7 linked regions of the Homo sapiens genome follow. The protein of the gene in region 1 purifies or fractionates together with the protein of each later gene. This does not show direct contact. Each region holds a gene or a part of one and is shown in the gene's direction. Other genes may lie near its edges. The genes, in order: DIPK1A, LRP12, ANKRD44, SUSD1, SEL1L3, CACNA2D2 and TXNDC15.

What was found.
Region 2: the proteins of DIPK1A (region 1) and LRP12 purify together in Homo sapiens (affinity purification with mass spectrometry; one large-scale study listed by BioGRID and IntAct). This does not show direct contact.
Region 3: the proteins of DIPK1A (region 1) and ANKRD44 purify together in Homo sapiens (affinity purification with mass spectrometry; one large-scale study listed by BioGRID and IntAct). This does not show direct contact.
Region 4: the proteins of DIPK1A (region 1) and SUSD1 purify together in Homo sapiens (affinity purification with mass spectrometry; one large-scale study listed by BioGRID and IntAct). This does not show direct contact.
Region 5: the proteins of DIPK1A (region 1) and SEL1L3 purify together in Homo sapiens (co-immunoprecipitation; 2 studies listed by BioGRID and IntAct, with this or other methods). This does not show direct contact.
Region 6: the proteins of DIPK1A (region 1) and CACNA2D2 purify together in Homo sapiens (affinity purification with mass spectrometry; one large-scale study listed by BioGRID and IntAct). This does not show direct contact.
Region 7: the proteins of DIPK1A (region 1) and TXNDC15 purify together in Homo sapiens (affinity purification with mass spectrometry; one large-scale study listed by BioGRID and IntAct). This does not show direct contact.

Annotation. Positions count from the first base shown.
Region 1 is NC_000001.11:92,874,463-92,877,962, reverse strand, and holds part of DIPK1A (divergent protein kinase domain 1A), read left to right. Parts: intron 1-812; exon of another isoform or gene 813-1,002; intron 1,003-1,532; coding exon 1,533-1,667; intron 1,668-3,500.
Region 2 is NC_000008.11:104,488,736-104,491,997, reverse strand, and holds the end of LRP12 (low-density lipoprotein receptor-related protein 12 isoform a precursor), read left to right. Parts: intron 1-458; coding exon 459-1,325; 3' UTR 1,326-2,762; downstream 2,763-3,262. UniProt on the Homo sapiens protein: Probable receptor, which may be involved in the internalization of lipophilic molecules and/or signal transduction. May act as a tumor suppressor.
Region 3 is NC_000002.12:196,986,162-196,989,471, reverse strand, and holds the end of ANKRD44 (serine/threonine-protein phosphatase 6 regulatory ankyrin repeat subunit B), read left to right. Parts: 3' UTR 1-2,810; downstream 2,811-3,310. UniProt on the Homo sapiens protein: Putative regulatory subunit of protein phosphatase 6 (PP6) that may be involved in the recognition of phosphoprotein substrates.
Region 4 is NC_000009.12:112,140,798-112,144,297, reverse strand, and holds part of SUSD1 (sushi domain-containing protein 1 isoform 2 precursor), read left to right. Parts: intron 1-674; coding exon 675-827; intron 828-1,798; coding exon 1,799-1,978; intron 1,979-3,500.
Region 5 is NC_000004.12:25,747,989-25,751,488, reverse strand, and holds part of SEL1L3 (protein sel-1 homolog 3), read left to right. Parts: intron 1-2,924; coding exon 2,925-3,064; 3' UTR 3,065-3,500.
Region 6 is NC_000003.12:50,371,135-50,374,634, reverse strand, and holds part of CACNA2D2 (voltage-dependent calcium channel subunit alpha-2/delta-2 isoform b precursor), read left to right. Parts: intron 1-1,549; coding exon of another isoform or gene 1,550-1,570; intron 1,571-3,500. UniProt on the Homo sapiens protein: The alpha-2/delta subunit of voltage-dependent calcium channels regulates calcium current density and activation/inactivation kinetics of the calcium channel.
Region 7 is NC_000005.10:134,891,371-134,894,870, forward strand, and holds part of TXNDC15 (thioredoxin domain-containing protein 15 isoform 1 precursor), read left to right. Parts: intron 1-2,121; coding exon 2,122-2,285; intron 2,286-3,500. UniProt on the Homo sapiens protein: Acts as a positive regulator of ciliary hedgehog signaling. Involved in ciliogenesis.

The DNA of each region.
Region 1 (3,500 bases):
AATTGATTTAGCTAACATTTGCTGAATACTTACTACGTGCCCAGCAATATGCTTATGTTTTATAGGCATTATGTCATTTAATCTTATTTAGGTTCACAATATTAGTACATGTCGATTTCTGTCTGATGACCAAACCTCTTATTAGAGACGAGTCATCTTAAATATCTTTCAAACAAACCCCATGGTATATACCCCATTGTCTTTTATGTGATTTAATTTGGAGTTTAATCTGAACTTTCTTTTTACTTAGAGCAATACAAAAGTATCTTGCATTAAGGCACTTTTTCATTTTAATAATAAAGCTCAGAGACCTACAATTTTACTGAGAACTCATTGTACTCAAGCCTTTTGGTACAGGGATTCACCATCTGTTAACCTCACAAAGATATCTAAACCACAAATAGGGCCAATAGAATTCAGTATTTCCTGAGTCTCTTTTTCCTTTGCACTCATTGTCTTCTGCAGGTGTGCTTATGTCTCTCTCATCTCTTTCTGCTTCTTTGCATGCTCACAATGCTCACAATATCCTACTGTTCCCAGTGTGAGAAACTGGCTCGTGATTGTAAAAGCAAAACTAGCTTTTCATTGTTTGTTTACATATCTTTAATTTATTCTGCCGAATTCTCTTCGTAGTCCTCAGTTCTGCTGTTTATAAAACCAGACCATGGGTGCTACAGACTCAAAAAATAAATGTCAAATAGTCTTGATCAAGTGTCACTTTTGAAGATGAAACTGTTTGATATGTAATTGATGGAAAAAAGGCATCAACCAGCCCGAGTTGCAATTAGATACAAGAGCACTGGAAACAAAACAATGCAAAGAGGATCCTATTGTGCAGCTTTACACTTTGCAAGTTGATATGCAAAGAGTAACTTATTTTTAATATATCTTAACCCTTCTCCAGTCATTTCTCCTTTAACAATTGTTAGCGTCTCCTCAGTTTCCAGAATATCTATTCGGTGAAACATTTGGTTCGCTGAACAAGAGGAACATAAAGCCCTGGTGAATACAATAGGGAAATAGAAATGACTGTAGAGCTTAATTTCTTGTTCTGGTTGTCAGTATGAGACATTAGACAAATAGCCAGATTTTCTGTTCTTATTTCTTTAAAACAAAATTATTTTTATCATGATTTTCCTAAAGACCTTTAAGATTCTTATGTGAAAGAGTCTTTTGTAAGCTTCTAGTAAATAGGAATTGTACCTCTCTTTACCTGATCTCACAAGGTGCCCAGGGTAGCATGGTACATGTGCTTGTGCCTAAAAAGTAGCTTTGGATGATGGTGGTATTTGAAAGGTTATACATCTTAAAGGATATTTTGTTCCCTTTTTCCTTGGCAGGACCAAGGAGCTTCCTTTTCTAAGACCAGTGCTGTTTGGACTCAGTGAAAGTGCACTTTGTTCTAGAATTGCCATATAAAAGCCTGGAATATATATTGAGTTGTTCCAAGAAGGGTGAGAAGTCGTGTTCTAGGACATTGAATGCTGATTTGGTGCTGAATGAATGATCGTTATGTTCTTTTTTACTCACAGGCTCGCTTCTCATATGTGCGGATGAAATATCTTTTCTTTTCCTGGTTAGTGGTTTTTGTTGGAAGCTGGATTATATATGTGCAGTATTCTACCTATACAGAATTATGCAGAGGAAAGGACTGTAAGAAAATAATAGTAAGTATTTTAAATTTCCTGTTTACTAAAAAGCCTCTTCATAACACTATATTTACTGCTTACATACTTACTAATGATGTTTTTAAAAATAAAAGTTAATTTGACATTAGAATTGTGCTAATCTTCTTAGCTTTTTGACATGACCCATTAGTAAAGTTTTCCCCACTTTGAAAATTCCAGTGTTCAGAAATTTAAATATATAACACATAAATAAGTTAGTGTGGGGGCATCCTCAATACAAAGAAGGATTTTTATTATATATATATATATTTTTAATATATTTAAGTTTTAGTTTATTTCAATCAGATGAGTTTTTTAATGTTTAGACTATAAAAGCGTATTTACAGGCAGACTTTCTAGAACACATCTTTTACTCTTGAATACCAAAATTTATCTAAAAGGATTATTATTCTGTTTCTATCCTAGTGATTGGATGTATCTCAGAAAAATGACTGTATCAGTCTAAGATTTCTAGTAGTGATCATTAATTCTATAGACTTATATTTTAAAAATTTGAGAATTTCAAGTAAATTTAACTCCTTTTTTTCCACCAGTACTTTCTCTCTTTTTTTTTTTTTTTTTGAGACGAAGTCTTGCTTTATTGCCCAGGCTGGAGTGCAGTGGTACAATCTCAGCCTACTGCAACTGCCTCCCAGGTTCAAGCAATTCTCCTGCCTCAACCTCCCAAGTAGCTGGAATCACAGGCTCGCACTACCACGCCTGGCTAATTTTTGTATTTTCAGTAAAGACGGGGTTTCACCATGTTGCCCAGGCTGGTCTTGAACTCCTAGCCTCAAGTGATCCGCCCTCCTTGACTTCCCAAAGAGCTGGGATTACAGGCATGAGCCACCGCACCTGGCCTCTACCAGTACTTTCTAATATAAAGAATATTAAAACACTCCATCTCAGAATTATATTTGAATAGTAATGATTTGGAGGGTTCCAATTATTATAACTTGTTAAAGATTCTATAGTTGTTGAGTAGCTACTCTTTACCCAGGCCAGTGGTGTATGCATATAACAGGGAGCAAAATATCTTTGACCTTATAAAACTTACAGTGGATCAGGAAAGAAAATGAGTAATTACAGTAAGGTAAGATAAATAAGATAGCAACTGTTATGGGAACATAAGACGGAAACCTGGAGCTTCCCCAAGTTCTAAGAAAATAAAAACCAGTTTAACACAAGGTGCTTCATCAGTTAGGATACAAAAACACGTTATTCCACAGGAGTGTTACAGTCTTTTAACTAGGCAAGAGAGGGGAATGAGTTAGTAAAGAAGAGTCCTAAGTCAAGGTTCAAAGATAGCAATCCTGTGTTCATTCCAACTGGCCATTCTAGATCCTTAAGGAATTTTAAGATAGGAGGTATCTCTGGGGCCAATGTACTGGGTACTTTACATGTTCATTAATCCTTAGCATAATAGTGTACAGATAAAGAACTATGACCCAGAGAGACAGGAGAATTTGCCCAAGATGATGGAACCAGAATTTGATCCTAATTCTGTCTCTCTATGAAGCTCATACTCCTTCTGCTACCCTACATCAGAAAAGACTGACAGAAGAAGTTACAGTCTAATAAAGCTAATAAAACCCCACAAAACTCAGTTTCTAACCTTCAGTGAAGAAGGAGGAAACAGGAGGTAGATAATCAAGTTCAAAAACATACAAATAACCGAAACTATTTGAAATGTTTATTTCTCTTTCTCTAGGCCACCTTTCTCAAACTAGGTACCTTGGAGCACATTAATAGATATTCCATGGATAAAATATGTCCCTGGTCAGATGTATTTGGAAACAGAGGGTTAAATAAAGATAACAACTGACTTTACTA
Region 2 (3,262 bases), on another chromosome or scaffold:
ATTTGTTCTTTAAAAAAAAAAAAGATAAAAGTCCTCGTTTTCACAAACTCATTTTGGTCACTTCGTCAATTATGTAGAGATTCTCCTATGTTCCTAGTTACAGAAGTATCAATTTTATTTTCTAGCTTTGGTACACTTTTCATGTTGGATTACGATGTGAGATTTTGAAACAACTGTTATAATTTACATTAAATATCATTTTTAAGTTGCATATATAAAATGGAATATCAAGAAAAGTTTAAACAAACAATGATTCAAGTTAGATTAGTAGATTAGATTCTGTAGTAGGATGAACCCACATAGGTAAGAGAATTTAATTTTTCCTTCTTAGACCCAAAAGCAACAATGAGTAACAGAATTTTTAACCACAACACATTCTTAATAGAAGGGTGTTTTTTTTTTTTTTTATCTTAGTACCTTGTTGTTAACTATCTTAAGATCTTTTCTTATTTTTGTAGGCTTCTGTTTTGGAAAATCTGAGGCTAGCGGTACGATCTCAGCTTGGATTTACTTCAGTCAGGCTTCCTATGGCAGGCAGATCAAGCAACATTTGGAACCGTATTTTTAATTTTGCAAGATCACGTCATTCTGGGTCATTGGCTTTGGTCTCAGCAGATGGAGATGAGGTTGTCCCTAGTCAGAGTACCAGTAGAGAACCTGAGAGAAATCATACTCACAGAAGTTTGTTTTCCGTGGAGTCTGATGATACAGACACAGAAAATGAGAGAAGAGATATGGCAGGAGCATCTGGTGGGGTTGCAGCTCCTTTGCCTCAAAAAGTCCCTCCCACAACGGCAGTAGAAGCGACAGTAGGAGCATGTGCAAGTTCCTCAACTCAGAGTACCCGAGGTGGTCATGCAGATAATGGAAGGGATGTGACAAGTGTGGAACCCCCAAGTGTGAGTCCAGCACGTCACCAGCTTACAAGTGCACTCAGTCGTATGACTCAGGGGCTACGCTGGGTACGTTTTACATTAGGACGATCAAGTTCCCTAAGTCAGAACCAGAGTCCTTTGAGACAACTTGATAATGGGGTAAGTGGAAGAGAAGATGATGATGATGTTGAAATGCTAATTCCAATTTCTGATGGATCTTCAGACTTTGATGTGAATGACTGCTCCAGACCTCTTCTTGATCTTGCCTCAGATCAAGGACAAGGGCTTAGACAACCATATAATGCAACAAATCCTGGAGTAAGGCCAAGTAATCGAGATGGCCCCTGTGAGCGCTGTGGTATTGTCCACACTGCCCAGATACCAGACACTTGCTTAGAAGTAACACTGAAAAACGAAACGAGTGATGATGAGGCTTTGTTACTTTGTTAGGTACGAATCACATAAGGGAGATTGTATACAAGTTGGAGCAATATCCATTTATTATTTTGTAACTTTACAGTTAAACTAGTTTTAGTTTAAAAAGAAAAAATGCAGGGTGATTTCTTATTATTATATGTTAGCCTGCATGGTTAAATTCGACAACTTGTAACTCTATGAACTTAGAGTTTACTATTTTAGCAGCTAAAAATGCATCACATATTCATATTGTTCAATAATGTCCTTTCATTTGTTTCTGATTGTTTTCATCCTGATACTGTAGTTCACTGTAGAAATGTGGCTGCTGAAACTCATTTGATTGTCATTTTTATCTATCCTATGTTAAATGGTTTGTTTTTACAAAATAATACCTTATTTTAATTGAAACGTTTATGCTTTTGCCAACACATCTTGTAACTTAATATACTAGATGTTAAGGTTGTTAATGTACAAAAAAAAAACCCTTATACTCACCTGCGTTTTCATTTGTTTGACATTTGTCTATTATTGGATTTCATTATCATATGAACTTGTCAGTGGGAAACAAACTGTCTAAAAATTTTTCTCTTACGTTTAACATACAATCATGTGAAATTTAGGCAGAGTTCGATAAATTACTGGCAAAAACAAAACTCTTTTATAAAGATTTTCTAATGTTGACTTTAATACTCTAACATGGTACAAACCAAATGGTAAAATCCCAAGTCATTTCTTTTTTCATCTCTATTTAGCAACAGAATTAAGTGGATGAAGATATTCTACTATGCATTAAATCTTGAACTTTATAAAACATGTACAAAAATTGTACAAGATAAGTTCCACCTGGTAATGTCTTTCCCTAATACAGGGTTGCGCTTGCATTGGACCCTAGGGATTTGCACTAAAATTATATCAAGGTCTCAGATGAGCTTAGTGCACAAGCACTATCACTTTAAATACTATTATTTGCTACCACAGCAACTATATATTTCCATAGCTTTTGGCTGGGGGCGGGGGACATTTTTATTACAACTTGAAATTGCTTTGCTGGTTTCATATTTATTTGTTGTATTTAAAAAATACATTGTTGTAAGAGTGATTTTTTCAATATATTTTATTCCTGGGGGGGATCATGCTACACTCTCAAAAGAAAATTAAGAAATCATTCAGATCATCCCCCCTTTTTAAGTAGTGTGAATTGCAAAACCCAACATATTTTTTTTACTGTCAGTTGCGGTTTATTTATTCTTTAACTGTCTGTTTTAGTAGTTTAATGATTATGAAAAATGTATCTGTGTGTGATTTGCTATTTATTAAATTTTAAGTACTTTGCTGAATGTCATTTTAAAGCATGTTTGAAGTCTTGTGTATTTGTCTGTGTTAATGCTGTCAGGAGGAACTGACTAAGATGTTTTAATATGTATCAAAAATTAAAATGATTTTTTTTATTGCCTTGAGGTACTTTTTAAATCAAAGCTGTTCTTTATTTGTTGAATTTTGGTGCATATACAAATTCAGGCCATAAAATATGCAATATATCTAGAATAAAAATGATTAGAAGGAGATCATTCCTTAACTACTTTATAGTAAAGTAGTAGCTTTTACCAGTACTCGAGGGTAAAATTTTCTAAGGACTTGAATATTATTTTGCTTGAGATTGCCCTTCAATTGATGTATCTCACAAGATGAGAGAGTTTAATTGATTAAACTGCCTTTTAATTGACGTATCTCACAAGATGCAGTAACACAATCAGTTCTCTTTTTAAATTGTTTTCACATACATTTTAGACCCCTATAATATATTCTACTGGCAGAATTTGGGTTACCAAATAATCTTTTATGCCCTAGTACTAATATATTATCAAGTACAAGGGTTTTGGTTTTCTAGCATATGTTTTAATTTATTATTTTAATTAACTAATACATCATCCTGGTTCAAACAGTAAAATGTAAATTCCTCTTCTATCCCA
Region 3 (3,310 bases), on another chromosome or scaffold:
CAGTCTAAAATGGAAGATACACATTTTTTTCCTTCAAAATGCAAGTGAGAACTGAAGTAGCTTTTTTATGGAGTTAAATGTAATCTTTCTGTGTACCAGTCTTTGTTGTATTTTATATTTCTTAGGACACAGATTTCTAGTTGACCACTTAACATTTGTAACTGATGATGTGCTGACCTTTTTTTTTTTTTTTGCCAAACTAGAGAAAATGTCCATATACTTTTGCTGTAAATGTGTTTATATTTATTTGAAATGAAACAAATGGTGAGGAAACATCCATTATTTGTTCTCTATTTTAATTGCTATGTATCTTATTTAGAATAACAAAAAAAAAGTGAAAAAAAAAACACTTGACCCTGGGCTAGCCAAAAGCCCAAGGGCCAAACCTAGCATTTCCACTGCTAAGGTTTCCAGATGACCCTCAGGTTCTTCCGCGTTGGTTAGAGAGGGCTACGCATCTTCTACTGCTCAGCCACAGTCTGTAGCCAGCTTAGAGCTTAGAAGACATTGCAGTCTGGATGCCCTTCTGCGAGATGAAAACTCAGATGTGTAGTGGATCATATACACAAAGGCAGCACAAAGAAATATCTAGAAATTACCCTAAGTACACTGAAAAGCTCACATAGTCTCAGTAACCTGATGAGAAATGATGGCAGTGTGTGGGCACATGTGCCAAAAGGAGAAATAAAAATCACCAGCTCAAGTGCTATTTTCTACTTGAGGAAGAGACAGAAAAGAAATGTGTCGAATTAGAGCAGTACTCTCTGACGTTTTATAATGAGTTCCATTTCCACCCTGGAAATTGCTATTTTATAGTGTATGTGAGATATTTCAAAAATAATGTTCTATCATATCTGGATCAAAGACAGATAACTGTATTATATTTTTCATCTAGCTATAAAACTTTAATCTTACTCTTAATATCCTGGATTTAATTAAAACTCCTGTTGGGTTCTTCACAAATGAGAACTTGTTCAAAGGATTTATTGAACTGGTATTGATTTCACTGAAAATTTTCCACACCACCACCATTGTTTTTTTGAATTCTTGGTGTTGTGCTTCCCACCTTCTGTCCTTTTCGTTTGTTTAGAGAAGATGAATTTTTAAAAAGCAGATAAATTGCTAATGAGCAATAATGACCTTATCTTTACCAAAACACTGAAAATTAAGAGAGGTTCAGTGTTGAAGAAGCACAATATGCTGCGGTGTCTTTTTCTAGAAGTGAATGGAAATCTTGCTCAGTTGGCATTTCAAGCAGGAAATGAAATGCTTGCTTTAATGGCAAAGCAGCGTTAACATTTTTCCTGTCGTGTAGCAGAGAGTACAAGAATCATTTCAGCAAAGCAGTGACTCACCATGAGACGTTATCTCCATGGAGCTGCGTTTTGACTTTTCCCACTCTCTTACTCATAGAAGGAGGACAAAGGAACGAAATGAAATCATGCTCACAATGAACTGTTCATTACATCAACTGATCTCTCTCTCTCTCTCTTCCTCTCTTTCTCTTTCTCCCATACCCCAAGGCAAAATTTTTTTAAAGAAATGACTTTAAAAACTATCATTTCTGTATTTTAATTACATCTCTTAGAAATAAAATTATGTTTGCACCATAGCTTTCTAAGAAAAAAAAATGTGTTTTTAACTGAGTCTTAGTTGCTTAGTGCTTTTATTTGTGTTATTTTTAGACTGTATTTTAACCACAACTACAAGGATCATGTTTCATTGCACTTACTTATTTGCCAGTGTCTGCCTGTCTTTGCTAAATACATTACTATCTCCAAATTGCCTAAAATCTGCTATGATTCTACAGTAAATAGCTCAGGGTATTTCTATTTATCACTACTAAAAGGGCACCATAGTATGTTTTGGTACTTTAGGCAGTAAACACTGCTTGGTTTATCATTTTGTTATTAAATTAGAACAAGAACATCAAATGGATTTGCTGCACTAGTTATTCTTTGTACTGTTGAGCAACTTGGTGTGCTTATATGTTGTGTTGGTTGAAGAACTCATCCGTTTTATTGTCTTGTAATATGAAGTTAGAGTGCCTTTTTATATTTGTATATTCTGAAAATGTTCTGTGGAATGTTTTGTATTTTTTCATTTGAGTGTTATCAGAGCAATATGATACCAGTGAGTTTTCATTTCAACTTTTCTTTGAATGTATAAAGTGTCTTTTTTCCTATTTCCCCTTGTACTTGCATTGAAATGAATATGAAAATGCTTAAGTTTTCTATAGGAATTGTTTGATTTTGCAGTGCTAAAATGCTTTCGTCTTACGAAACTATAAACCATAGGTCAGTATTATAGGGGAAAAGCATTTTAAGATAGTGACAATCTGAGTGTTTGTATAAAATGTAATTCTATGCGTTTCTTATGTGATCTAAAAATTCAATGCAAATATCTTTTATTTGGTAGTTTTGTCTACATATTTTATGCTCTAGCATGTGCAATATATCTTTGTAAAGCACGATGATACAAATCTGGTGCCAGTGTTATATTTTGCATAACATATTTGTAACAGCATAAAATATTGTTTGATGATTTCAGTGGGATTTTGTCTATAATGTTTTCTTATGTAAATTGGAGTTGAATGACTCTGGTAAATGTCATGACTGTAAAAATGGGGAAAATGACTTTTAGTTCAGTGAATGACTTTGAAACAATCTGAATCTTCTCAAGCACAGTTTAATACTTTTGCAACTACTGAATGCTCTAATAACGTAATGAAGTACTTAACTGTAATATACTATGGAAATGCATTCAGATGGTTATTTTTACAAATAAAAACGGTACAAATATTGTTGGAATTTGTGTTTTAATTTTTCCAATTTATGCTTTTTCTAAATTATGCTAATTTAAATCTTTGCACCCCCTCAAGCCAAATTAACTTTAAATTTAGAAAATAATCAAGATAAAAGTGTATCTCCAGATTCACGATTTATGTTTGTGTTATCACAATTAGAGAAAAAATTCAAACATATATGCTTGTGTTTATTATATGTATTTATGCTTCCAACTTTTTTCCATAAAGGGTTTTGTTTTGTTTTGTTTTGTTTTGTTTTTTTCTGCTCTGTTGTCCAGGCTGATGGGCAGTTGTGAGATCTCGGCTCACTGCAGCCTCGACCTCCTGGGCTGAAGTAATCTTCCTACCTCAGCCTCCCGAGTAGCTGGGACTACAGATGTGCACCACTATGCCTAGCTAATTTTGTTTTTTTGTAGAGATGGGGTCTCACTATATTGCCCAGGCTGGCCCATAAAGGATTTGAGCTGGGTTATGACAAAAGACGTGATAAACTAGAAATAGAAA
Region 4 (3,500 bases), on another chromosome or scaffold:
TGGATATATTTATAGTGATTGGATTTTTTAGTGATTGGATTTTCTTTTTTTTTTTCTTTGAGACGGGGTCTTGCTCTGTCACCCAGGCTGAGTGCAGTGGCGTGATCTCGGCTCACTGCAAGCTCCGCCTCCTAGGTTCAAGTGATTCTCCTGCCTCAGCCTCCTGAATAGCTGGGACTACAGGCATGTACCACCATGGCTGGCTAATTTTTGTATTTTTACTAGAGATGAGGTTTCACTATGTTGGCCAGGCTGGTCTCGAACTCCTGACCTCAAGTGATCCACATGCTTCGGCTTCCCAAAGTGCTGGGATTACAGGTGTGAGCCACCATGCCCGGTCAGGATATTTTTTAGTGATTGGATATATTTATGTTTTTGGTTCATTTTGTTGGGTGTCAGGGAGCCGGTGATGGTTATCAGCTTTTGTAAAATCCCAGAACACACTGACAAACATTTATTGAGCACTTGCTATGTTTTCAGTGCCTATGATATGAACGATATATGAGAAGAACCCATAAGGCATAAAATAAAATGTATGATACAATTGCAAACAAATGCATCTTTTTACAAGAGTAGCTTGAAAATGTGAAAAAATGGCTGTCACAATATCCTCTCCTTTTTTTTTTCTTTTTTCTGTTTTTATCTCCTTTTCTCTATTTGGATTGGGTCCCAAGACATAGATGAGTGTGAAGTTTCTGGCCTGTGCAGGCATGGAGGGCGATGCGTGAACACTCATGGGAGCTTTGAATGCTACTGTATGGATGGATACTTGCCAAGGAATGGACCTGAACCTTTCCACCCGACCACCGATGCCACATCATGCACAGGTGGGTTTCTGCCAAAAATTGCGGCATCTCAACGTGAAATTCTGTTGATGGTGACTTTCTTCTGCTCCAAGCCTGTGTTGGGGAGGCAGGTGGAGGTGATCTGATCCTTTGCACATTTTGTACAACCTATGACATAAAGCAAATAACAACAATCAAGTTACAGGGGGCCATGTTAAAAAAGCTAAAATTAGGCCAGGAGCAGTAGCTCTGTAATCTCAGCACTTTGGGAGGCCGAGGCTGGTGGATCACTTGAGGTCAGGAGTTCGAGACCAGCCTGGCCAACACGGTGAAACCCTATCTCTACTAAAAATAAAAAAAAATAGCCAGGTGTGGTGGTGGGCACCTGTAATCCCAGCTACTCAGGAGGCTGAGGCATGAGAATTTCTTGAACCCAGGAGACAGAGGTTGCAATGAGCCGAGATCATGCCATTGCACTCCAGCCTGGACAACAGAGTGAGATCTCTGTCTTAAAAAAAAAAAAAAAAAAAAAAAAAAAAAAAAAAAAAAAAGCTAAAATTCATAAACTTAAAGGATTTTTATTAGCAGTTAATAGATATTCCGATATTAACTACTATGTTAGATAGTAAATGCCAATGATTTGGTAAGGTCCCTGCATCTCAAAAGTGACCCTGAAAATAATCAAGGTACATATATCTTAAGGTATTTTGCAATTCAGATTTTTTATTTCACTGGACAAGGCTTCTCTTTAGTTAGTGTAAATTAGTGAGGGTTGATTGCTAAGTTATTTCAGCTTTGTGCATGTATAGATGCTTTACCTATGGAAGGCCAAAAGATTGAATAAAGACAATTGTTGGAAATGTTCCCAGAAGTCATGTGGGAATGAACCAGTGTACTTAAAATATGGCTCGGGGGTGTGTGTGTGTGAGGAATAGGGTAGAGGTGGAGAGAGATTGTGAATTTTGAAGATTTACATTCACGAGGTAATGAATTTGACATTAATTTATTTTCAGAAATAGACTGTGGTACCCCTCCTGAGGTTCCAGATGGCTATATCATAGGAAATTATACGTCTAGTCTGGGCAGCCAGGTTCGTTATGCTTGCAGAGAAGGATTCTTCAGTGTTCCAGAAGATACAGTTTCAAGCTGCACAGGCCTGGGCACATGGGAGTCCCCAAAATTACATTGCCAAGGTGAGTTTTCAAAAAATACAGGTTCCCAATTCATACCACCTTGAAACTGTTTTCATATTTTTCTCTAAATTTCAGTTTCAGGGAATAAATGAGTTAAGTAAACCTTTAAAATTCCTATTTGTTTCTCATAGATTTTCAGGTGATTTTCTTGATTTTTCAGGAATAGTATCATATCATCTGCAAATCATAATTCCATTCATAAATTTTTCTTTCTTTATAATAGTTATGTTTTTCTCTTGATTGATCACTTTGTATTTTTAGAACAAAGACTTAAATGGTAGTGTTGCCTTTGAATATTATTTTTTTATTCCTGACTATTAGGGAAATGGTTTGGGTGTTTCTTCATTCCTGATGTTAGTTTTTTGATGTTAGGTGTATATATATATATATATTCCCAGAAGTCATGTGGGAATGAACATATATATATACATATATATACACACACATATATGTATATATATACATATATATATAAAAACGTCATGTGGGAATAACATATATTATATATAATATACAATATATACAATATATGTAATATATTACATGTAATGTATTATATATTATATATTACATGTAATATATATTATATATAATACATTACATGTAATATATTATATATTTTTTATATATATATATAGTTTTTGAGACAGAATCTCGCTTTGTCACCCAGTCTGCAGTGTAGTGGCACAACCTTGGCTCACTGCAACCTCTGCCTCCTGGGTTCAAGCGATTCTCATGACTCATCCACTCGAGTAGCTGGGATTACAGGCACCCACCACTACACCCGGCTAATTTTTGTGTTTTTAGTAAAGATGGGGTTTCACCGTGTTGGCCAGGCTAGTCTTGAACTCCTGACCTTAAGTTATCTGCCCGTGTTGGCCTCCCACAGTGCTGGGATTACAGGTGTGAGCCACTGCGCCTGGCTGATATTTGGCATATCTAATCATGTCTACTCATATGGCACTGTGTGCCAAGTATTATTTTAAGCACTTTATATATGATGATGGACCACATTGTAGTGGTCCCATAAGATCATAATGAGACTGAAAAATTCCTATTGCCTAGTGACATCGTAGCCATCATAATGTTGTAGTGCATCACACTCACGTGTTTGTGGCATTGCTGGTGTAAACAAACTTACTGCTCTGCCAGCAAGTACATTACTGTATGTATATTACTGTATGTACATTACTATACATAAAAGTGTACAGTAATGTCCTAGGCCTTCACATTCACTCACTATTCACTCACTGACTCACCCAGACCAACTTCCAGTCCTGCAAGCTCCATTCATGGTAAGTGCCCTATTACAGGTGTATCATTTTTTTATCTTTTATTCTGTATTTTTACTGTATCATTTCTATATTTAGATATATAAGTACTTCTTATTGTGTTATAGTTGCCTACAGTAATCAGTATAGTAACATGCTGTGTGAATTTGTAGCCTAGGAGCAATAGGTATACCATACAGCCTAAGTGAGTAGCAGGCTCTACTATCTAGGTTTGTGTAAGTACACTCTGT
Region 5 (3,500 bases), on another chromosome or scaffold:
ACCAGCCTGATAGCAGAACACACATCACCCTGGGCCTACACTGTTCCCCTAGGTCCATTGGCTTTGCAGCTTCTGGGTCACCTGGGAACTCCGTCATCTTTGCCAAAGCCAAGCGTCATTAGCCCTTCTTCTCCCAAGTCTTCATTTCTGATTGCTGATGGGGCACCCAAGGGTACTGTGGGTACAACCCAAGGACTCCAAAAAGCTCCTTTCCTCACCTGTTGCATCTCAAAAGCACTCTCCTTGTCCACTCTTTGGGAGGGTACACCAAGCATAATTGCCTTAATGGATCAGGCTTTTGAAAAACAAAAAATCCCAAAGTATATGTCTGGAGCCATCTCCACTTCTGCCTGGCCACAAACCTCCCCTGAGACCAAAAAATCACAGAGCCTGACCGTCAGCTGCCTGAAGGAAGCTAAAGGCAAGAACAGAAGTGGAAAATAGAAGTCACTATTTCAAAGAAAGAGCCCTGTCTTACTAGTATCATGTCAACTTTATGTCTCAATAGAATACACCATATAGAGCAAGATTTGCAGAACTGCTAGCTCCTCGGTACAACTAGGTAACGTTTTAAACCAACGTCAGCCTATTCAATACATTTATAATTTAAGACAACTCATTCCTTCCAGCTAAGTGGTTAGCCTAATGTTCTTTTAAAAAGAGTATGGTGATATGTATAAGATTAATTAAACCTTTTCCTGCTGTTTCCTGTCATCTACATTTCCAGCTAATGAGGTTTCTACTAAAATTATAGTAAAATGTCACAAAGTAGTGCTTATGAAGAAAGCAGTAGCCTTATAGTCAGAGAGATTTCATGAGGAGGTTGTACTCTGTCCTGTCTCATTAGCTTGACATCTTACCAGTATCTCCACTCCTGAAGAGTGTTTCAGTGACACAAATCTGGTCCCTGCTAGATCCAGAGGCCCAGATGAAGTAGGCATGATCTTACTTATAGCATACAATTTCTAGGGTTTTCCCCTGTATACCTCCTTTGTGCAAACATTCTCTCATTTCACATGTGAATCCAACATAGTCCCACGTATTCTTTCTTTTTTGCTTCCATCTGGTCAGTCGGCAAGCAGATGTTCTTCCTAACAGCAGAGATCAGCAAACTTTTTCTGTAAAGGACCAGATAATAAATATTTTGGGCCCTCGGGGCTGTCTTGGTCACAACTACTCCACTCAGCCGGTAGCTGAAAAGCAGCCATTGTGGCTGGGTTTCTTTTTTCTTTCTTTTTTTTTTTTTTTTTTTTTGAGATGGAGTCTCGCTCTGTCGCCCAGGCTGGTGTGCAGTGACAAGATCTCAGCTCACCACAACCTCCGGCCTCCCAGGTTCAAGCAATTCTCCGGCTTTAGCCTTCCGAGTAGCTGGGATTACAGGCACGTGCCACCACGCCCGGCTAATTTTTGTATTTTTAGTAGAGAGAGGGTTTCACCATGTTGGCCAGCCTGGTCTCAAACTCCTGACCTCAGGTTATCCGGCCGTCCGGGCCTCCCGAAGTGCTGGGATTACAGGCGTGAGCCACGGCGCCCGGCCTGTGGCTGGGTTTCTAATAAATCTTTACTATGGATGCAAAATTTGAATTTCATATATTTTTCACATGTCGCGAAATATTACTCTTTTTCTGTTCAACTGTGTAAAATTGTAAAAACTGTTTTTTAAACCACGAGCCGTACAAAAACAAGCAATGACTACGTTTGGCCCATGGGCTGCAGTTTGGGCCAGTTCGTGATATTTCTCACTAATGTACAGAAAATGGTCCCCCAGGCAGCAAATAATTCACAAATCACTCCTATTTGGCTCTGGAATATACTCTGTAATTTTTTAAACAACATGCTTATTGTCCTGGTTACCTTGATTCTAGTCCAATAATAAAATTAGCACACATTCCAGATGAGCAGAGACAAAGAGGCCACTTTAAAATTAGGCCGGGCTGTGGGGGGCTTGTGCAGTGATTGCAAACCCCCCAGTGGAAGAAGGGGAGTCCTCACACAGATAATGACTAACTTCCTGTAGAAACATCAAACATTTTTACTATGCTCTTACCAAAGATTTAAATGGTGGCAATGCTAATTATGCATTCTTTCTACATTTACACATTGGCACTTTTTTTTTTTAAATCAGAAAACTCATTGCTGATTTATCTTGTTACCATGGTGATTTAAACATTTCCCTGAGCTTGAAAATACATGCCTTAGTACTTCATTAACTTCCTCAGAGATCATCAGGAAGGTAAATCTTAGGATCAAAGTGGGTTTCAAGATCATCTAATCCAAGACTCTCAATTCACAAGTGATGAAACCGAGGCCCGGGAGACTCAAACATTTTACAACCAAAATGTCTGCCATCTGTACCTATCCCAAGGTCCCTTGTTAGCAGCAGATAAATGAGGCTTGTCCAACCCAGTTCTCCTGACTGCTGCAAAATGGTCTTTGTACCTCATCACTGGGGCTCTAATCACTAGATCACCTGCCAGAGTAGTGGCTTTAATGACCTTAGAAAGGGTACATCATTCTACAACATCCTGCCCCTCCCCATCACTCTCCTATTCTTTCAGAAGAGTGTTGGAATCCACGACCTCTTCTGTAGGTACTGGAAGGGGCCCGAAGAATTCCCGCATATATCCAGAAAAGCCAGAAGTTTGGGGACCCATTCTTAAACTTCCTAGAATGTCCCCTTAGGAATGAGCATCGGCACTTGGAGGTGAAACTCTTGAAGGGTTTTTATTTAGAAATCAGATTGTCAGCATGTGGTGGCATCTTCTTAAACTTAGATAACGGGTCCAGAGTTGCCTGGCTAGTTAGTGTCAGGTTCATTAGACTAGATGCATCTCTCCTGGCTTGCCAGAGTCTCTAGGTGTGGTTGTACATTCTGAATGCACTGTTTTGAGTATTCAGCACCTGTTGTGCATGTGTCTCTGCAGCAAGCGATCCCCCTCCAAGACCATCCCAGGCCTCCCCAGACACTGCCACGTCCACTGCAAGTCCAGCTGTGACTCCAGCTGCAGATGCCTCTGACCAAGACCAGCCCACAGTAACTAATAACCCGGAGCCACGTGGGTGAACTGTGCACTCCAGTTCTCTCCAGATGAGAGAGAATCTTTTCAACAGCTGGTATTGGGAAGCTGGGGCCAGGGCATGATCCTGATAAACACCTTAAATGTCTTGTCAACTGGATGCAAATTTTGCAATTGGTGTCATTTTTTTTAAAGTCAAATTACAAGGAAGTACCCAGATCAGGCAGTGGTAATACCAAAGGTCATCAAACACATACAAGGAACATCTTGATCATAGGGCATGTGGGGAAGTTTACTGGGCCATCACAGACTTTTGTTCTAGTGATTGTATGTATTAGGAGTCATAGCATGCCCTACGGCAGATCTGGATTCTTATACACTAAGATGTGTCTTAAGAATCACAGTGCGTGCTTCATCCCTTTATTGAAGAACAGAAAATTATGACTACTCTACAAGGTGGATAATATTTTGGTACCTGTGCTT
Region 6 (3,500 bases), on another chromosome or scaffold:
CCTCCTGCCCAGTCTGCCCACCCTCAGGTGCCCGCAGGCTGGGGCACCTCGAAAGTCTGTGGAAATCTGCATGCTTGCCTTTTCTCAGATTCGGTTCCAGACCATTCTTTCATGGTTTCTGTTGAGGTTGCTGTTTTTGGTTTCTCCTACTCCGTGTCTTCCCTCCTTAGCCTGCCTGCCCCACACACTCCTGGGGGCTGCATTCTTGGAAGACACCCCCTCCCCTTACCTTCCCCCTCCCCTCCCCACCCACCTCCACTCCCCTTCCCCTCCCCTCCCCTTCCCCCTCCTCCTCCCCCTACCCTCCCCTTTCTCCTCCCCCTCCTCCTGTCCCTCTCCTCTCCCCTTTCCCCTCCCCTTCCCTTTCCCCTTTTCCTTCCCCCTCCCCTTCCCCCCACCCTCACCATCCCCCCTCCCCTCACCTTCCCCCCTCCCCTTTCCTCCCTCCACCTCCTCTCCCTTCCCTTCACCTATTCCCCCTCCCTTCAATTCCTTCCTCCTTCCCCTTACCTCCTCCCCAATCCCACCTCCCCTCTCCTCCTCCCCCTCCCCTCCTCCCTCTCCCTTCCTCCCCTTCTCCTCCCCCTCTTTCCCCTCCCCTCCTCTCCCTCCAGTCCTTCCCCTCCCCTCCTCCCCCCTCCCCTCCCCCCTTTTCCCTTCCCCTCCCCTCTTTCTCCCTCCCCTCCCCTCTTTCCTCTCTCTTCCTGTTCAGCTCTCTACCCCTGTGGTGCCCCCTTCCCATGGTGCCTCTCTCTCTCTCTGCCCCCTCCTCTCCATTCTTTCCTCATCCATCCTCACTCAGTTCCCACTTACCCTCTCATCCTTCTCCTCTCACTTCCTACCTCTCTCCCCTCTGCATCCAACCTCCCTCCCTTACGCACTGTCCTCTCTTCTTCCCTCTCTCCCTCCTCTTCTCCCTGCATCTCCTCTATCTCCCTCTTTCTCCTGCTCACCTCCTCCATCTCTCTCTCTCACTCTCCCTCCCTCCCGCTCTCCCCACCCCAGCACCCCCCCCCCTTCAGTCCCACTCCCCACACTCCCTCCGCTCTGCCCCCTGGCTCCCTCCTCACCTTCTTTCTTCCCTCCTTCATTCCCCATCCCCCTCCTCCCTCCCCCTCCCTGCTTTCTCCCTGGCCCCCCTCCTTCCTCCCCTGCCTCTCCCACTCCTCTGCCTGTGGCTCACCCCTGCATGCCCTGCTCATCCTGGGCCTCTCCTGAGAGAGTCTCTAGAGCCTGTGGCCCTGCCTGCCCACCACGCCCGAGGTCACTGGGAGGGAGGCTGGGGCTCCGGCCCCACCGGGCGCCCCCCACCTGCCTGGCCGACTGGGGGCTCATCTCCTTTGAGTTTTCTTGCTCTCTCTTTCTCTCTCATGTCGTTTTTTGCAAGAAGTTTCCTTTCGGTATGATGATGAGACACAATATTTTCATTCAAACAGCCATTGAATAAAATATTGTTTGTGCCCCTCCCCTTTCCCTCCCCCTTTTCGTTTGTTTTTGTGTTTGTGTTGTTTTTGTTTTCCTCGCTTTCTCTCTTGGTGGACTGTCCCAGTGCCAATCAGCAAACTGAAGGGCAAGTATATTCAGAACCAGTGCACCCTCCTCTTCCCACCCCTCCCATCCTCACGCCCCTGCTTGCCCCCCTCCCTGCCCAGGACCAGCCAAACCCCTGCTCTCCAGGGCCCCCTCCCAGCTTCCCCTTGGCTCCTCTAGTTCTTGCCTTTCCTCTGATTCCTAAGCCCCTATGAGAGCCAGTGGCCTGTGCCCCTGGCCCTGCCTGCAGGGTGTTCTCCGGCGTGTTCTCAGGGCCCACAACCCTTTCCTTGGACCCCTCACTCTCTCTGGGGAGGCCCCTGCCTCCCCCACCTTCTCTGTCCCTCTAAGACAACTCAACAGTAGGGACAGTCTGGACGCTTCTCCACCACCTCCCACTCAGCAGGGCTGGAGGCCTGAGATGCAGGGGGTAGATCAGCCCCTAGTGGGGCTCATGTGAAGCTGTGGGAAGGGGCCAGCCCACAAGGCCTACTCTGAGGTAGCTCTCCCTCCTCTGATCTCTGGCAGTAGCTTCAGAAGCTGGCAGCCCTCCAAGAAGGGAGGCAGAAGGCTCAGAAGCCTCACGCCCTGATGCTGGGGCCAAAGGGCAGCATAGGGCAGGCCCCAGCCATTGAAGAGCAGGGCTGACCCGCGCCTCCTGGGCACTGACACAGGTGCTGATGTCCCCGTGTCCTGCCGGCCCGCTGCTTCCAGAGGCTTTGCTGAGCCCCGGGGTGGCTTGGCAGTATGGAAAAGGTGTTTCCCTGGGGAAATAAAACCAGATTTGGGGACCAGGGGCCTGGACAGGGATGGAATGGGATCTGTTTAGACCCCAAGAGCCAGCAAAGGTGTTTGGAGGAAATCAGGCTGGGTATGAAAGGAAGGGTTCTGGCACACTGGGGTGCCTAAGCCAAGGAGACTTCTGGAAGAGTGGGTAGTGAACCCCTAGACCCTGGCAGAGAGTAAGGGGAGTGAGAGAGGACAGCATTACAAAGGTCTCAGAGAGCCACCTCTCCCAGGGAATCCCTGGGCAGATGGGGCATGGAGAGCCACAAGAGGATGTCCCCATGACCTGGAAGCAGGGGCACCCAAGAAGCCCTAGGGGCCCTGTCCAGCCTAGTCCAGCAAAGGGGATAAAGGGATCAGAGCCACCTCCAGTGGCCAGGGCGGGGGTGGGGGATGTGCCCTACTCCCACTGGCTTGAGTTGTCTTTTTCTCCCCACCCCCGCACATCCCACCCAGTGACCCCAGAAATGCAGGGCCCTAGTAACAATGACAACATAGCATAGTCTCCTTCCCTGCTCCTTCGCCCTCCTTTTTCTTTTTCCTCCTTCTCCTCTTCCCCCCAACCCCTTCCCCATCGGCTTGTGTCCAAACCCTGCCTCACAGTCCTATCAGAAAGGAACAGTCCAACCAGTGACTGCCCAGCCCCTCCAAGCACCCCAAGTGCCCCCTTCCCCAGAATCTTGCAGTGCATTGTGGGAGTATTTGGTATCAGGGACAATCTGTCTTCTATACAATTAAAGCCCTGGGAGCAAAAGAGAGCTCAGAAGTGGAGACAGGCTAAGAAGGTGGACCACCCACAGTGAGACAGGCCAAGAGCAGAGGGACCCCTCCCAGGTGCAGACCAGCAAGGTGGCCAGTCCAGCTGGGCAGGGAGAGGCCACAGAGGAGCCCCAGCGGCCACATCCTCAGGTTCACTCTCAAACCCATACAGAGATACTCACACTTAGGCACACACACACACACACACACACATGCATGCTCACTCACCCACACATGCACAGCTCATAAGCCCAGGGCACAGGCCCAACTGGGGATGCCTCAACAGCAGCCCTATGCCCTCTCTGGAGCCCTAGCATCCCCCATGGCTGCCTGGAGCCCAGACAGGTTTTAGGAAGGGTGGAGACCCAGCCCGTCTCCACGCCCTTAGCCAAGGGAAGCAGGTACAGTTTCCAGCAGCACCCCTG
Region 7 (3,500 bases), on another chromosome or scaffold:
AGGCCTGAAAACAACATTCATCTCCTTGTGCATCTCCACCAGAACTCTTGGTTGACCAGGTGCATTGTCAACGAGTATAATATTTTGAAAGGAATCTTTTTTTCTGAGCAGTAGGTCTCAACAGTGGGCCTAAAATACTCAGGAAACCATGCTGTAAACAGATGTACTGTCATCCAGGCTTTGTTGTTCCTTTTCTAGAGCACAGGCAAAATAAATTTAGCATAATTTTTAAAGGCCCCAGGATCTTCAGAATGGGCAATGAGCAATGAGCATTGGCCCTGTGGTTGCTCATACCTGTAATCCCAGTACTTTCAGAGGCCAAGGTGGGTGGATTGCTTAAACCTAGGAGTTCCAGACCAGCCTGGGGAACATGGTGAAACCTTATCTCTACAAAAAATACAAAAACTTGCCAGGCATGGTGGTGGGCACCAGCTACTTGGGAGGCTGAGGCAGGAGGATTGCTTGAGCCCAGAGGCTGAGGCTGCCATGAGCCATGATTGCGCCACTGTACTCCAGCCTGGGTGACAGAGCAAGACCTTGTCAAATAAATAAATAAATAAATAATAAGATTTATTGTTAAATAAATAAATAAGACCGCAGCTACACTGGCCTCTAAAAAGAGTCCGCCTGTCCTTTGAAGCCAGGCATTGACATCTCTTGTCTAGCTATGAAAGTCCTAGAAGCCACCTTATTCCAATAGAAGGCTGTCTTATCTACATGAAAATTGATTTTTGAGTATAGCCACCTTCATCAATTCTCTTAGCTAGATGTTCTGGGTAAGTTGTTGCAGCTTCTTTTTTTTTTTCCCCATTGATCTTTGATGTTACTATGTTGTAGCTTCTCTATCAGCACTTGCTGCCTCACCTTGCACTTTTATGTTCTGGAGACAGCTTCTTTCTTAAACCTCATGAGCCAACCCCAGCTAATTTCAGACTTTTCCTCTGCAGTTTCCTCACCTCTCTCAGCCTTCGTAGAATTGAAGAGAGTTAGGGCCTTGCTCTGGATTTAGGCTTTGGCTTAAATGTTGTGACTGGTTTGATCGTCTATCTATAGCATTAAGATTTTCTCCATATGAGCAATAATGCTGTTTTGCTTTCTTATCATTTGCATATTCATTGAGTAGCACTTATTTTTATTTTTAAGCATCAGAGGTCACCACACTGGATGGAGTAGCACATTAACTTCCTTTAAAAACTTTTCCTTTGCATTTATAATGTGGCTGTTTGGTGTAAGAGGCCTAGCTTTCAGCCTGTCTCCTATGTTGGCATTCGGCATGGCTTCCTCACTAAGTTTAATCAATCATTTTTGGCTTTGATTTAAAATGAGAGATGTACAACTCTTCCTTTCACGAGAGATGTACAACTCTTCCTTTCACTTAAACAGAGGCCACTGTAGGGTTATTAATTCACCTAATTTCAATATTGTTGTGTCTCAGGGAGAGGCCTGAGGAGAGGGAGAGAGATGGGGAATAGCTGGTCGGTGGAACAGTCAGAACATAGACATTTACTGATAAAGTTCACTGTCTTCTATGGGTACAGTTGGTGGCGCCCCAAAACAATTACAATAGTAACATCAAAGATACTTATCATAGATCACCATAACAGATATAATAATAATGGAAGAGTTTGAAATATTGCAAGAATTACCAAAATGTGACACAGACACAAATTGAGCACATGCTGTTGGAAAAATGGTGCTGAAAAACTTGCTGGATGCCGAGTTGCCACAAACTTTCAATCTGCAAAAAATGCAATGTCAGCAAAGTGCAATGGAGTGAAATGCAGTAAAATGAGGTATGCCTGTATTTGAAATGATGAATTATGAAAAATATTAAAATAACTTGTAATATTAGGAAAGCGCAGAGGAAAGTTTAAAACTTTCTGCTTAATTCAGCAAGACTTAAAAAAAGTGAAAGTTTATAACTTGTCATTTGATCATACTTTTTTGCTGGTTCCTGGATTCATATGGTTCAAAATCCAAAAGGTTCCGAGGGTTCCTTCTCTCGCTGCTCCTACCCACCCGTTCCTCTCCCTGGAGCAGCAGTGTGTCCTGTTTCTTGGGTATCCTTTCAGAAAAATGTACTTTTACTGCTAACTTTAATGCTTGTTTCTTTTACCACAGGACCTTATGGATTTTCTGAACCCAAACGGTAGTGACTGTACTCTAGTCCTGTTTTACACCCCGTGGTGCCGCTTTTCTGCCAGTTTGGCCCCTCACTTTAACTCTCTGCCCCGGGCATTTCCAGCTCTTCACTTTTTGGCACTGGATGCATCTCAGCACAGCAGGTATCTTCCATTGGTGGGGTTTACGTCCATCCTCCTGGCTGATGGTTGCAGTTATTTGGAGGTCCTAATTAGTTAAGTTAGAAGCAGAAGAGGGGGGGCATGAACTGTGTCCTGGGATGGAAGGCAAGGCAAGAGTGAATAGTGAGGATTATCATACTCCTGAGGGAGCTGGTGGTGTCACTTTATGGAGGCCCCTTAAAGAAAGTGGGCTGTTCTCTGTGTGGTGGATTTAAAGGTGGCAGGTGGTAGCACCTGATGGCAGGGGAGGGGCCAGAAGACTTTTGAGGGCCATAGCCAGACTGAATCAGCACAATTGGTATCACAGTAGGATATTCCTTTGTGACTTTAAGGCGCAGGTTAAATCCCCATCCCAGGCAGCCCAATTCCCAGCACCCCTGTTTTGTGTCTACTCAGGATTTCTTCCCTTCCTTTTCTTTTTCTTTCCTTCTTTTCCCTTTCCCTCTTTCCTTCTTTCTTTCCTGCGTACTTATTCTTGCAGTCATGTTCTGTAGTAGGCACTCGATCAAGTCATGAATTAATTTAGCTCTTTAACATGACATTTATCTTTGTTTTATATTTCTCGTGTATCATTCACTGGGTTTTTGTCCAGGCTGGCCTTGAACTCCTGGGCTCAAGCGATCGTCCTGACTTAACCTCCTGAGTAGCAGGACTACAGGCATGCGCCACCATGCCAGGCTGGTCATTTTTTTTTTCTTTTTTTTTTTTTTTTGAGGTGGAATCTTGCTCTGTCACCCAGGCTGGAGTGCAATGGTGTGATCTAGGCTCACTGCAACCTCTGCCTCCCAGGTTCAAGTGATTCTCCTGCCTCAGCCTCCTGAGTAGCTGGGATTACAAGCACCTGCCACCATGCCGGCTAATTTTGTATTTTTAAACGGGGTTTCACCGTTTGTTGGCCAGGCTGGTCTCGAACTCCTGACCTTGTGATCTACCAGCCTCGGCCTCCCAAAGTGCTGGGATTACAGGTGTGAGCCACTTTTTGTCTTTTTTAAATGTTTAGTAAAGTAAGTTACAGAGAACTTTGTTGAGATGGTATATGTTTCTCCTAAGTGCTGCGATTGTGCCTGAGTTATAAACTGTTCTTCTCTTCCAAATCAGATGCTCCTTAGTAGGTCAGCCTCAACAAGGAGGTTGTGTGTAAATAAATCTAGAACATCTGAAAAATGGTCAATTGGTGGTAAAATGAAGTTGAGTAAA